4 linked regions of the Homo sapiens genome follow. The protein of the gene in region 1 purifies or fractionates together with the protein of each later gene. This does not show direct contact. Each region holds a gene or a part of one and is shown in the gene's direction. Other genes may lie near its edges.

Region 1 (3,500 bases):
ATCAGGGCCAGGGGAAGGACCTGTGAGTGAATGTCATCTCACCCGGGGGTCCTGGGAGAGCCAGTGGCAAAGGCTTTTGTGTGTTGCCTCAGCCCTGCATGCCAGGATGTTGCTGGGAGCCGGAGGACCCTGGATTGCTACTTTTAAAGTAGTCGACCTTTTGTTCATTCACTCATTCATTTATGCATTTACTCACTTATCCAGCATCAATTTGACACACCTTACTGATGCCTGCAGGGGCAGACCCAGTGCTAGCCAAGGGTGACCCAGAAATGTGGGCAGCAGGGCGTCTGTGCCAGGAGCTCACAGTCCTGTGGCGTAGGCAGGTGGCTGATGTGGGCAGCTAAGGGAGCACAGGGTTGCGTGTGAGCCCAGAGCAGTGCCTCCCCACCCCCTGTCCTTCAGGTCTGGGTGCAGAGGACTGGCAGCATGGGGTGAGGGATAGCTGGGTGCATCCGCCAGTCCTTCTTCTTTCTGAGGACCAGGAGTACTTAGAGGCTCAGAGGTGTGGTTGGGGCCCTCGTGTTGATGACTCAAAAACTAGACCTAGGAAGGGAACGAACCTTCCCCAGGCACATAGTAAATCTGTAGTGGGCCAAGATTGGAGCCCAGTGACCACCCCCAACCCCGTGCACTCTGGAAGTGGCAGGAACCCAAGGCTGCTCTGGACGAGTCAGCAGCGGCCCAGCATCCCCCAGGTTTGCTGGTGGGCCGAGTGGTGGGCAGATTGTAGGGACATAACCCCTGCATGTGTCATGATCGATCTTCTGCTTTCCCCAAGACCATGTCCCTGCATCTCTACCAGGGGCCCGCAGTTGCCAGAAGAGTCTGAGTGAGACTCCCTTTTGGATCCAGCTCGTTAGGCTCGGGTAGCAGCGTCCCATGCCAGCTGTTGGTGTAATTAAGGTTGCCATAAAACCCACCAGCTAGACACACAAATGGCTCCTTTGCTCTTTCCTGGGGCATGAGCAGTTGTGAAGGCGAGTAAATCATGTTCGGTGGCGATCACTTCAAAGGCCAGCCTTCCACTTGCAGCCACATTATTGGCAGGGATCGCCCATAACACGGCTTGTTTCCCAGCCATTCACTTTTATGACACCCTAATGAATTGGGCCATTTCCATCCATTCTCAGAAAATGTACGGAACAACTGTTTTGGTTCTCCTCAAAAAGTTTGTCTTGGGAGGCAGGTGGTGTGTTGGCAGGGGCATGTAGGTAGTTCTTGGCTCCTGGGCAAGTTGCCTGTCTCTGAGACTTCATGCCCACCGAGAGAAGCTACCTATGGGGCTCTTGTCATGAGATAACTTATGTGAACCCCCCAGCCAAGGCCCAGCACCTAACGGGCACTCAGCGAGTGGCAGGGAGGGCCGTCATCTTCCTCATCCTTTCCCTGGGTCAGCCTCTTAGGGATCAAAGTGTTGAGGCTGGTGGGGGCTGTGATATCAAGGCCATGTGGGAGGATAGAGCAGGCACAGGCATGCAGAATCCAGTGCGTGGAGGAAGGCAGGCAGCCGTGCCGTGAGGGGCAGCTTGTCTCCCTGTTCTGCATTCAGAAGGCTTTTTTTTTCCACCCCTGGATCATTCTTTAGGCTTCAGGGGGCCCACTCTGAAATCTCCCTGGTTGAGGGTTGCTTTGGAAGAGGCTCAGAGAAGAGCGGTCATCTGTTGCCTACCCTCCCCCAGGAATTACAGAGGCAGGAATTGACCAGCAGGAGAATGAACCGTGGGTCCCAGGGAAGCCGTGGAGGTCGGAAGAGGCTCCACCATGCCCTGGCCCTGTGACCTTGAGCAAATCCGTACCTCTTCCTGGGCCTCAGTGAACCTCATCCAGAGAATGGGCCTCAACCTCCTCCTCCTCTAACCTAAACTGAAATTATGGAGTGACACATTTAATGTGAATTTGATGTATACATTTTAAGGAGGATGACAGAAAATATGTCTGCAAAATTTGAAAGGTATGAACTCCAATTAAAAAGTCAAGGTGGCTCATTTTGAGCTGGCGGGGCCCAGGGACTGAACTGTTTATGCTGCAGCCACATGGTGGCGGCCCAGGAACTGGTAAAGGGACCGGCCGGCCCCTGCGACCAACTTGAGACCTTGCTGCGCTTCCATGGCTGCGCGTGGGTGCCCAGCATGTTATTTCCATATTGTCATTAAAGTCCTGTCCTCTGTGAGTTTGTTAAGTGGAGCTACTTGCTGGTCCTGGTACTGGGACCCTTCTCCATCCCCTCACCAGAGCTGGATACTTGAGAGCAGAAGCTGAATGTGATAAAATCCTCTAAGAAAGCAAAACAACTGCTCAATACTTAATAAAGTCAGTTTATGAGACAGCAGACTGTGAAGTATCGGTGATGATGCTAAAACAATACAAAGTGTCGTTAAAGCTAAAATATGTCCTGTGATTCTGGCTTTATGGTCTGTCCCCAAGCACACTTGCTCCTGCATTACTGTGGCTCCTCTGGGACAACAATCTGGGACTTTGCAAGCTGTGAATTATGTGACGTCTTCAGAAGCAGGACCCACTCAAAGCATGACCCCAGTGTTGATGGATGTCAATATGCTCTCGAGGTGCCCTTGGCGAGTCAAGGCCCTTCCCTTTGCGCTTTCCCTGGGATCCTGCTGCTCTCAAGGGGTGATAGGGATGCCTCTCTGGACCCATGTGGCAATAGAGCAGGGGGGCTGAGAAGCTGACAGACACTGGACTGGGCATGGGGCAGGAGGGTCCATGATTCCATATATGGCTTGTGGGTGCTGCTCAGCCTGGGTGTGTGTGGCCCAGCATAAACTTCACTAAACCTGCCTGCCCCCTGGGTCCTTGGCCTTCCCTGCATAGGCGCCTGTCCGTGCTGCCAGGCCTGCCAGCATGACCGGTGTCCGCTCTTGCAGGTGATGAGAAGCTACAAGGCGACCATCCAGCAGACCTTGGACATCCTGTTCCTCCGGGAAGGCTCCGAGTTCCTGAGCAGCACAGACGCTTCCACCCGGGACTCAGCTGACCGCACCATTATTGCCTGGGATTTCCGGACCTCTGCCAAAATCTCCAACCAGATTTTCCACGTAAGAAATCCCATTTGGCATTGCTGTCAGTTTCAGCCACAGAGCGTATCCATGTAGTTCTGGTCTGTCTGAGGTCCCAGGTCCCTTCTGTGGGAGGAGGCTCACTGGACTGAAATCTCCAGGATGAGGGTAGTCAGGTCTCAGCCTGCCGCACACATGGAGAGCTTGCTGTGGGCTTCCAGATGCAACCTCCTTCTGCTCTTCTTGTGCCAGCACAGCAACCCCACAGGGTAAGGGTCTGGTGGGGGGCGGTTCAGTCCAGATCAATGGGGAACGTGGCAGTGCAACCTGAGAAACCCCACCCTCCCACTGCCACCACAACCAGCTACTCAGAAGGGGTTTCTGACCCTCAGTGGCATTGGCAGTTGATGTAGCCCAGGAGTTCAGAGCAGGGGCCCCACAGTTAGAACACCTGCATTAAGGTTTTGGATTCACTAGGACCTT
Region 2 (3,500 bases), on another chromosome or scaffold:
AGCAAGGGGCAAAATGTGTAAATTGTTGTGTCATTTCTGTAAAAATTTGCTGTACATGCATAAAATATCCAGAAGTCTGCACAATAAATGGCATATTTTCATTTGTTGTTACTGGGAAGGGGAATTGGGTGGCTGGAAACAAAAGTGGGAGACTTTTTACACTTTTTGATAATTGGACCATGTGAATATATTCCCAAACTCAGAAGCTACACACACATATATAAATACACACACGTAAAGTAAAATAGCTATTTTGAAATTCAGATACATTTTTATTCATCCTTTATAAACATTCTTGTCTATACTACTCAAATTGACATTTAAGAGGACTTTTTTTTTTTATTAAAAAAATTTTTTTGGCTGGGTGTGGTGTCTCACGCCTGTATACCCAGCATTTTGAGAGGCTGAGATGGGCAGATCACGAGGTCAGGAGATCGAGACCATCCTGGCTAACATGGTGAAACCCCGTCTCTACTAAAAATACAAAAAAATTAGCCGGGCGTGGTGGCGGGCGCCTGTAGTCCCAGCTACTAGGGAGGCTGAGGCAGGAGAATGGCGTGAACCCGGGAGGCGGAGCTTGCAGTGAGCCGAGATTGCGCCACTGTACTCCAGCCTGGGCGACAGAGCGAGACTCCGTCTCAAAAAGAAAACAAAAAAATTTTTTTTTTTTTTGAGACAGAATCTTGCTCTGTCACCTACGCTGGAGTACAGTGACGTGAACTTGGCTCACTGCAACCTCTGCCTCCCGGGTTCAAGTAATTCTCCTGCCTCAGCCTCCTGAGTAGCTGGGATTACAGGCGTGTGCCACCACACCTGGATGATATTTGTATTTTTAGTAGAGATGGGGTTTCACCAGGTGATTCTTGAACTCCTGACCTCAGGTGATCTGCCACACCTGGCAAATATTTGTATTTTTAGTAGAGATGGTGTTTGCCAGGTGAGTCTTGAACTTCTGACCTCAGGTGATCTGCCTGCCTCAGCCTCCCCAAGTGCCAGGATTACAGGCATGAGCCACTGTACCTGGCCAAGAGGACTTTTTGTATTTCTATTTAGTTTCTTTTTTTTTCTTTAGGTCTACTTTCCAGGACTAAACTAAGAATGATATTTTGTCCTCTTTCAGGGATTTCAGTCATAATCGGTTGTCTAACTGGAACATCAGCTTGGAATCACAAACATTACAGGAAGTGTAAGTTATTTTTATTTATTTAAAGTTATGTTAAATTCCTGAGGGAACTTAATAAATTGTGATTTGTGGGATGTTTAATCCAGAGATGCCATAAAAAAATTGAAGGAAAAAATTAGTTAAAAGAAATTATTTGAAAACCTAAAATGTTTTCTTTGGCTTTGTTATTATCAGACTGTCTTGGCATTGGGTTGGTGATTTCAAGTTGCAGGCTGTGGGGGAAATATTCTACCTTCCTGGGGCTAAAAGTAAGATTTACGCCTCTTCAGAGTAAATGTGTTTTGATTTTGGCCAAGTTTTCAGCCAGTGAAACTCTGTTGTATAACCTTTTTAAATGTCTTGACATGTTATCTAAGATTGGGAGCATCATGTCTAAAGTAGATTTATATGAAATAGAGTATTCTTGATATCATATGAGAATGTAATGATTGATAGAATTAAGTTTTTCTCTTAACTAAAGTTTTTCCTTTAATACTGAGATGTATTATGTAATTTTGGAGGGAGTTTTCTAAGATATTATTAATATTAGTTTTTGCATTGTTACATTCCTAGAGGCACAACCGTTAAGGTATATAGGCCTATTTGCCTCTACAATTAACACCATCAGAACCCTGAGATTTACTTTCCTTTTTAATTCTTTGCTAACAGGGATAACTTCTTCATGCTCATTGTCTCTGCATTCTCTCCTCCTGGCCCCAGATTCACTGCTTCTAATACGTTGTGGATGAGTACACAGTTGACAAGTTTGTTAGCTGAAAGAGTAGGCACTGAGGAAAGGCCTGAAAATGCTTCAGTGGGAAGTGCATGAGCTTTATTGCATGGACTTTGTAACTTTGGTTGGTTTCCTGAAGGTCTTTACTTCTGGTTTCTTTTCTGTGTTCTAGATTGTTGAGGTTGTTCAGTGACTAAAAACCAGGTTAATGAAATGTGATTGTATTAGATTTGCTACTAAAACATTTGAGACAAACTGTTTAAAGGGCTGCTGGGATCAGATGCAACATGTTATGTTATCTGTAAAATTAGTCATAGGTTCCATCTCTGGGTGGGCTGATAAATTTCATCTGTGGTCTCAAGTAACACTCTCTAACATTTGTATAGCTTTAGAAAAAATATATATACATTTGTGTGTTGTGTGTTTATATATATTTAGAGAAAGAGAGATCTGGATGGACTGATTATGCCTTCTTTAAGGACTCAAATTAGCTGCCATAAACCCAACTTATTCAAAGAACTTTGCTTGAACTAACAATATTTAATGTGCAAAATACTTCATAACCTTTCTGATATTAATATCAATAGTAGATCAACACTATGAAAATACATTTCTTGGCCAGGCATGGTGGCTTACGCCGGTAATCCCAGTACTTTGGGAGGCCAAGGTGGGCAGATCACCTGAGGTCAGGAGTTTGAGATCAGCTTGGCCAACATGGTGAAACCTGTCTCTACTAAAAATACAAAATTAGCCGGGCGTGGTGGTGCATGCCTGTAATCCCAGATACTCAGGAGACTGAGGTAGGAGAATCACTTGAACCCAGGAGGCAGAGGTTGCAGTGAGCCAAGATTGCACCATTGCACTCCAGCCTGGGCAAAAAGAATGAAACTCTGTTTCAAAAAAAAAAGAAAAAAAAAAGAAAGAAAATACATTTCTCATTAAAACCTCTAATTTCTCAATAAATACATTTTTATTTTCGTCTAACTCATTCTGAGTCATATTCTTTTTCAAATTTGGCACCTATTCTAAAGAATATGTGTTAGCCAGAAGGTAGAATCCAAGAGGTAATATTTCCCTCACTAAACATTTAAATCTGTTTTTCCTCTTGCCTAGGAAAATGAATTACAATGAACTAACAGAAATCCCGTATTTTGGAGAACCTACATCTAATATTACTCTACTTTCATTGTAAGTTAGTAAGTTTTCAGGTTTTTTACTTAAATTATGAAAAGTATACATTTTTTTTTTAAAGCACATATATTGTTGATTCTAATTAACATTTTTGTGGCCTGGGGTGGATCAGTGGCAGCAGCTTCATTATAATCTTTGTTTTACAGAGTCCATAATATAATCCCAGAAATAAATGCACAGGCACTCCAGTTTTACCCTGCTCTGGAGAGTTTAGACCTCAGCTCAAATATAATATCAGAAATCAAGACATCTTCATTTCCTCGCATGCAGCTTAAATACCTGTAAGTAACACAGATTAAATTAGATTTACTTTAAAGCACATGTTTATGGGGACTGTTGTGGGGTGGGGGGAGGGGGCAGGGATAGCACTGGGAGATATACCTAATGCTAGATGACGAGTTAGTGGGTGCAGCG
Region 3 (3,500 bases), on another chromosome or scaffold:
ATGGCCAGAAGGATCTACTCTTCAAAGACTCTACCTCGGAGCTTGTGCCCATCGCCACACAGACCTATGAGGCGTGGCTGGGCCATGAGTACCTGCACGCCATGAAGGGTCTGCTCTGTGACCCCAACCGTAAGTCCACCTGTCCCCACTGCTGCCAGCTCCAGCCCAGCTCAACCTCGGGCATGGCGAGGCTCTCTGGGAAAGTGGCCGGGGGAAGACGCTCACCAGGGAGGCCTCTGCGGGAACCTGTCATTTCCATTCCTCTGCCCCTGGGGCTTTGGGGAGGAGGCATCTCTTCCACTGTATGGCCTGTTGTACCTCGGAAGCCCCACCTGGCCGCAGCGGGGGAGGATGCAGACCATCAGAATCTGTCTTGGGAAGGGTCTCCTCGCCCCCCCATCCACGGCCATGGCATCCTGTCAGCTCTTCTACAGCCTCTCGCTCCTACTCCCCGCCTCTACCCCATGGCTACAGCCCTGGCGCAGGTGCCATCTTTCGCCTGGACTATTGCAGTAGTCTACAAGTGAGCTTCTTGCCTTTAGCCCCCTGGCCCCATGTATCTTCCACCTCCAGCCAGGGAAGTGGGTACCACACACTGAGTTACATGCACGCCAGCCATGGTCTTCCTCAGGCCTCACAGTTGCCCCTTTTCTGTGTGAGGAAGTGGGATCCGATGGTTAAATAACTTATCCCAGCCACACACCTGACAGGAGAAAGGCCCAGAATTTCCCTTGGGTCCGACTCCATGCTCTTCCATGGCAGTACTGGCCTGGCAGTGACCGCTTGCTTGCCCCACCCCAGGGCTGCCCCCCTACCTGCGCTGGTGTGTGCTCTCCACTCCCGAGATCCAGAAGTGTGGAGACATGGCCGTGGCCTTCCGCCGGCAGCGGCTCAAGCCAGAGATCCAGTGCGTGTCAGCCAAGTCCCCCCAACACTGCATGGAGCGGATCCAGGTGGGAGTCACGCAGGTGCAGCGTGGGCCAGGTGGGCGGGTGGTGGCAGTGCCTGGGCAGTTCTTACTACCCACACCCCCTGCTGCCTGGGGAAGAGGAGAGTGTCTACTGCAACAAGCCCACAGAGACGGGTGGGGAGGAGCGACCGCAGGGGCCAGCACCCACCCCAGGGGACAGAGACAGGCGGGGAGGAGCGACCGCAGGGGCCAGCACCCACCCCAGGGGACAGGCAGATAGGGGTGAGTCCCCTGGAGAGCCTGGGAGCTCCTCACTAAGTGGGGGTGCCAGGAGCAGAAGAAGCGCTGGCCCAGCTGGGCACTGACGCCCTGTAGCCTGGGGCAAGCCCCTTCCCCTTTCTGAATCTCAGCCTTCCCTTGTGCAATAGAGAGTGGGCGTGGATCATTGTTCGACTTTTTTTTTCTTTTTTCCTGATTTTTCTAAATAGACAAATAATAATTGTGCATATTCATGAGATACATACTGATGTTTTGATACATAGAATACATGGTGATCAGAGCAGGATAATAATTAACATACCATCATCTCAAACATTGCTCATTTCTCCGTGTGGAGAACATGCAATATCGTCCTACCTGTTTGAAACTATGTATTATTGTTAACTCTAGTCATCCTACAGTCTATAGAACACTGGAGCTTATTCCTCCTATCTCTCCTGGCTGGGTGCATTGGCTCACACCTATAATCCCAGCACTTTGGGAGGCCAAGGTGGGTGGATCACTTGAGGTTAGGAGTTCAAGACCAGCCTGGCCAACATGGTGAAACTCTGTTTCTACTAAAAGTACAAAAAAATTAGCCGAGCATGGTGGCACACAGTTGTAATCCCAACTACTTGGGAGGCTGAGGCAGGAGAATCGCTTGGACCCGGGAGGTGGAGGTTGCAGGGAGCCGAGATCACACCATTGCACTCCAGCCTGGGCGACAAGAGAGAGACTGTCTCAAAAAAAAAAAAAAAAAAAAAAACTCTCCCTATTCCTCCCTTCCCCTACCCTTCCCAGTCTGCAGCATCCTCTGTTCTACTTTTTACTTCTGTGAGATCAACTTTTTTTAGCTTCCACATATGAGTGGAACATATGGTGTTTAACTTGCTGTGCCTGGCTTATTTCACATAACACGGTGTCCCCCAGTTCCGTCCGTGTTGCTGCCAGTGACAGGATTTCATTCTTTTTTATGGCTAAATAGTATTCCACGGTGCATGCCAATGACATTTTCTCTATCCATCCTCTGTTGTTGGACACCTGGGTTGATTCCACATCCTGGCTATTGTGGCCAGTGCTGCGATAAACATGGGGTGCGGGCATCCCTTCCACAGGCTGATTGCCTTTCCTTTGGACAGATTCCCAGTGGTGGGATTACTGGACCATATGGTATTCAATAGTTCGATTTGTAGTTTGTGGAGGGACTTCCGTACTGTTTTCCATAGCGGCTGTCCGGGTTTACATCCCCAGCAACGGTGTGTAAGAGTTTCCTTTATTCTGCATCCTCACTAGCATTTGTTATTTTTTATCTTTTTGATAACAGCCACCCTAACTGGGGTGAGCTGATACCTCACTGTGGCTTTGATTTGCATTTCCCTGATGATCAGTGATGGCTGCTGGCATTTTGTATGTCTTCTTTTGAGAAACGTCTGTTCTGATCATTTGCCCGTTTTTAAGTTGGATGGTTTTCTGCTGTTGAGATGTTTCCGTTGCATGTGTATTCTGGATATTAATCCCCTGTTGGATGAGTAGTTTGCAAATATTTTCTCTCATTCCATAGGCTGTCTTCATTTCACTCTGTTCGTTGTTTTCTCTGCTGTGCAGAAACTTGTTTGTTTGATACAATTCCCTTTGCTTATTATTGCTTTTGTTGCCTATGCTTTCGAGGTCTTTTCATAAAATCTTTTCTCAGACCAATGTCCTGAAGCGTTTTGCCTATATTCTCTTCAGCAATTTTATTGTCTTGGGCCCTGCATTTAGGCCTCTCATCCATTTTGAGTTGGTCCCTGTGCTGGGTGAGGGGTAGTTTAGGGCCCCGTTCATTCTGCACTTGGACATTCAGCTTCTTCCCAGCAGCGTCCACTGAAGAAGAGATCACTCTTTTCCCAAAGAGGTTCTTGAAACCTTTGTCAAAAATCAGCTGGCTGTAAAACTGCGGGTTAATTTCTGGGTTCTCTATTCTGGATCATTGGTCTATATGTCCGTTTCTATGCCTCTATCTTTGTTCTTTTTGCTTAGGATTGCTTTGGCTATTCAGGGTCCCTTGTGGTTCCATACAAAGTTTAGGATTGTTCTTTCTAATTCTGTAAAGAATGTCATTGGAATTTTCATAGGGAAGTTCAGCATTGCTGACAGCACCGAGCACTCAGAATACATTTTGCATTGATCACAATCTAGTGAACGGAAACTTTTCTTTCAGATAGAAATTTAAAAATGTATGTCCTTTATATACAGAGATATGACACAAATGGTACCCACTATTTTCTAATGTATTCTATTCTAATCCTTTTTTTCCTGACACTTGTCATGACCCACTCGATTTGGCCCCCAT
Region 4 (3,500 bases), on another chromosome or scaffold:
TGACATCCACCAGTGGTACCATCACCAGCCCCAACTGGCCTGACAAGTATCCCAGCAAGAAGGAGTGCACGTGGGCCATCTCCAGCACCCCCGGGCACCGGGTCAAGCTGGTAAGGGGTCCCCTCCCCACTCCTTATGCGGTGTGGCTGCCCCCGGTCAGAGGCACTGCCCAGAGCCACACAGGCTGCAGGCTGAGCCCAGAGGTCTGCCATCCCCAGGAGACCCCAAGTCTGGCCTGGACAGAGGCCCCTTTCCCAGTATAAATTAGGGGCGTCCCTGCCTTCGCCCTATTCCTGGGCCCTCCTTCACTGTCATCCCCAGCTGTGGCTGCTCCCATGGGTATCTGTGAGGCCTAGGTTTGGGGCCCTCATCCTTGCCCCACCTGCCTTCCAGCCAAATTTTTAATCTGTGCTCCTTCCTCATCCCCCTAGACCTTCATGGAGATGGACATCGAGTCCCAGCCTGAGTGTGCCTACGACCACCTAGAGGTGTTCGACGGGCGAGACGCCAAGGCCCCCGTCCTCGGCCGCTTCTGTGGGAGCAAGAAGCCCGAGCCCGTCCTGGCCACAGGCAGCCGCATGTTCCTGCGCTTCTACTCAGATAACTCGGTCCAGCGAAAGGGCTTCCAGGCCTCCCACGCCACAGGTACTGTCCCCGGTTGTGGGAGTGTTCACTGAGCCTGGTCTCCAAGACTGGGGTAGAGTCGGGGGTTTCAATGCGGGTATGAAGGTACAGAGGGACTGAGCCCTGCGACCCAGGGCCAGGGTTGTGGGTGATGCAAACATTGTGTCCTGAGAACCAGGCCTGGGGGGCAGGGATAGGAGGGTGTGGTTAGGGGTTAGGATGGCAGTGATGACGATGGACAGGAGAGGTGAGGGAACTCAGGGACAGAGAGGAAAGCCCCCAGAGGTCCCCCTGAGCGTACGCGGGCCACCGCAGCAGCCCAGCCACACACCAACCCTGAAATATACTCTATTCATTCTCTGATATTTATTTTTTTATTTTTATTTTTATTTATTTTTTATTTTTTGAGATGGAGTCTTGCTCTGTCGCCCAGGCTGGAGTGCAGTGGTTCGATCTTGGTTCACTGCAACCTCCACTTCCTGGGTTCAAGCGATTCCCCTGCCTCAGCCTCCCGTGTAGCTGGGATTACAGGAGCCTGCCACCATGCCCAGCTAATTTTTGTATTTTTAGTAGAGACAGGGTTTCGCCATGTTGGCCAGGCCAGTCTCAAACTCCTGACCTCAGGTGATCCGCCCGCCTTGGCCTCCCAAAGTGCTGAGATTACAGGCGTGAGCCACCGTGCCCAGCCCATTCTCCTGATACTTATTGACATGTAACATGGATGAGGCGGCATCCTAAATGCAGGTCCCAGAAACAGACCAAGCAAAGATCCCAGCCCTTGAGGGGCTTGCTCGGCTTTCACTTGCTTGTTTATTTAGCAGCCATGAACTGAGCTCCGCTCTGCGAGAGGACTAAGGGGCACGTGGCCTGAATCAGGCATGAGCCCTTCACTCCTGCCCCCCACCCCATACTAGGAACTCGCAGTCCAGGAGAGAGACAAGGCAGGCACCGCCCGTGACAGCATGAGCCCAAGCGGGAGCCAGGCAGGAAGAAAGGCACCCCGGCCTAACTGGGCATGTGTTGGTAGAGGCATTCGAGGCAGGGGGAGGTGCCCAGGCAGAGACACAACCCCAGCCCAGCCCAGAGTGTGCCCAGGTGACAGCAGGTCATTTACTTTGGCCGAAGCAATGGGTGTGTGAGGACAGCAGGTTGTGGGAATGATGTGGCTGCAGAGAAAGGCTGGAGTCCAGGGGGATGCCTTGAGTGCCAGACCAAGGATGCCACGAGGGAGCTTTGCAGTCTCCTCCTGGGTCCTAAGCCACCTGTCAGGGCATCCCCAGAGCTGATGGTCCACAGCCTCCCCTCTTCCCCTTCAACTCAGTCCCTGACCCAGCCCCGTCCTTCCCTCTCCCCACCTCCTCTAGCGAGACCTGAGTGCCAGGTGCACAAAAGCCAGAGGGCCTGGGGAGGAGGGTGGCCCCATGCACTGTCCTCTGCCCTTCCCAGCACAGGGTCACAAACCGGAGGCCCGGAACTCCATCTGGCCCTCAGACCTGCTATGTTTGGCCCACACTGTGTTTTTTTTAAAAATGTGAGCCAACACTTAAAAGTTAGGAGTTTTCACATAAAACCCAGATGTACGGCTTCTCTCTTGAAAATGGAAGCTGTGGCGACACTGGGCCCACATTCTTCCATGACAGCCATCAGCTGGAGAAAATGAGCAATGCCCTCTTTAGACAAAGTGTGTGGTGCCTCGTGCCACCGCTCCATGCTGTCTTCCTCTCGGTGAGCCTCACTGCCTGTTCCCCTCAGCCTAGGGCCAAGGTCCCTCTATTTAGAGATGGGGCAGCACAGCAATGTTCTGGGCCAGGCCCCCACCCACCCATCACTGGCCTCGTGGCCTTCACCCAGGCCTCCATCCTGCCGTGAGGGCACGCCATGGCATAGTGTGCCATGGGGCCTGGCACCTGCGGTGCTCAGGGCTGGTTGGCCCCTCTTGTCCCCTACAGAGTGCGGGGGCCAGGTACGGGCAGACGTGAAGACCAAGGACCTTTACTCCCACGCCCAGTTTGGCGACAACAACTACCCTGGGGGTGTGGACTGTGAGTGGGTCATTGTGGCCGAGGAAGGCTACGGCGTGGAGCTCGTGTTCCAGACCTTTGAGGTGGAGGAGGAGACCGACTGCGGCTATGACTACATGGAGCTCTTCGACGGCTACGACAGCACAGCCCCCAGGCTGGGGCGCTACTGTGGCTCAGGGGTGAGGCCCCCACCCCTCGCCCTCCTGGCCCCATGCCCCACGCCCCACACTGTCCTCCACCCTTCTCAGCCCAGTCTCCAAGACCTAGCGCCCACACAGGCCCCGGAAGTTGAGTGCAGCACGCGTGTGGCCCTGTGTGGGAGCCCAGAAGCCCAGCCTTGTTGGGGCTACTCAGAGACACTGCCCCATCCCCGACGTAGGAAACCAAGTCCTTTCTGGGCAACCTAGAAGTTCCTGCGGCCTCTGACCCAGGCCTGCCTCAGAACCAGTTGGCCACGGCCTGGAGCGGATGGAGCTTCCTCTGTCCCTCCTTTCCTTACCCCTCCCCCAAGGCAGCCCACCAGGGCCTGGAATGGGGGGCAGAGGTTGGCACCAGAGCCGGGGACAGGGCGCCTGAGCGGAGTGGCCCTCACCAGTCCTTTTGCCGGAGGCATAAACACTCTTGTCATTTCCTCTACCAGTTTCTCCTCCTGATGAAAGGCCAGCTTGTCCCAAAGCTCTTGCTGCTGCTGTCCCAGTGGCCCCTGGGCACTGCTTCTTGGTCCATAAAATGGCACGTTAAGAGTCAATGAGCAAAAGTAGGCTTGATGGGCTTTTCCCTAAGGACATGGGCTAGCCTCGTGGGGAGGATTTATTTTCCTCCCTGTAAGAGCTTGCAGCTGCCTCTTCTTCTTTT

The links.
Region 2: the proteins of WDR25 (region 1) and LRIG2 purify together in Homo sapiens (affinity purification with mass spectrometry; one large-scale study listed by BioGRID and IntAct). This does not show direct contact.
Region 3: the proteins of WDR25 (region 1) and MELTF purify together in Homo sapiens (affinity purification with mass spectrometry; one large-scale study listed by BioGRID and IntAct). This does not show direct contact.
Region 4: the proteins of WDR25 (region 1) and BMP1 purify together in Homo sapiens (affinity purification with mass spectrometry; one large-scale study listed by BioGRID and IntAct). This does not show direct contact.

What each region holds. Positions count from the first base shown.
Region 1 is NC_000014.9:100,522,985-100,526,484, forward strand, and holds part of WDR25 (WD repeat-containing protein 25), read left to right. Parts: intron 1-2,885; coding exon 2,886-3,056; intron 3,057-3,500.
Region 2 is NC_000001.11:113,090,198-113,093,697, forward strand, and holds part of LRIG2 (leucine-rich repeats and immunoglobulin-like domains protein 2 isoform 1 precursor), read left to right. Parts: intron 1-1,120; coding exon 1,121-1,186; intron 1,187-1,831; exon of another isoform or gene 1,832-1,943; intron 1,944-3,008; coding exon 3,009-3,083; intron 3,084-3,232; coding exon 3,233-3,367; intron 3,368-3,500.
Region 3 is NC_000003.12:197,012,818-197,016,317, reverse strand, and holds part of MELTF (melanotransferrin isoform 1 preproprotein), read left to right. Parts: coding exon 1-129; intron 130-801; coding exon 802-953; intron 954-3,500. UniProt on the Homo sapiens protein: Involved in iron cellular uptake. Seems to be internalized and then recycled back to the cell membrane. Binds a single atom of iron per subunit. Could also bind zinc.
Region 4 is NC_000008.11:22,206,872-22,210,371, forward strand, and holds part of BMP1 (bone morphogenetic protein 1 isoform 3 precursor), read left to right. Parts: coding exon 1-110; intron 111-431; coding exon 432-645; intron 646-2,573; coding exon 2,574-2,824; intron 2,825-3,500. UniProt on the Homo sapiens protein: Metalloprotease that plays key roles in regulating the formation of the extracellular matrix (ECM) via processing of various precursor proteins into mature functional enzymes or structural proteins.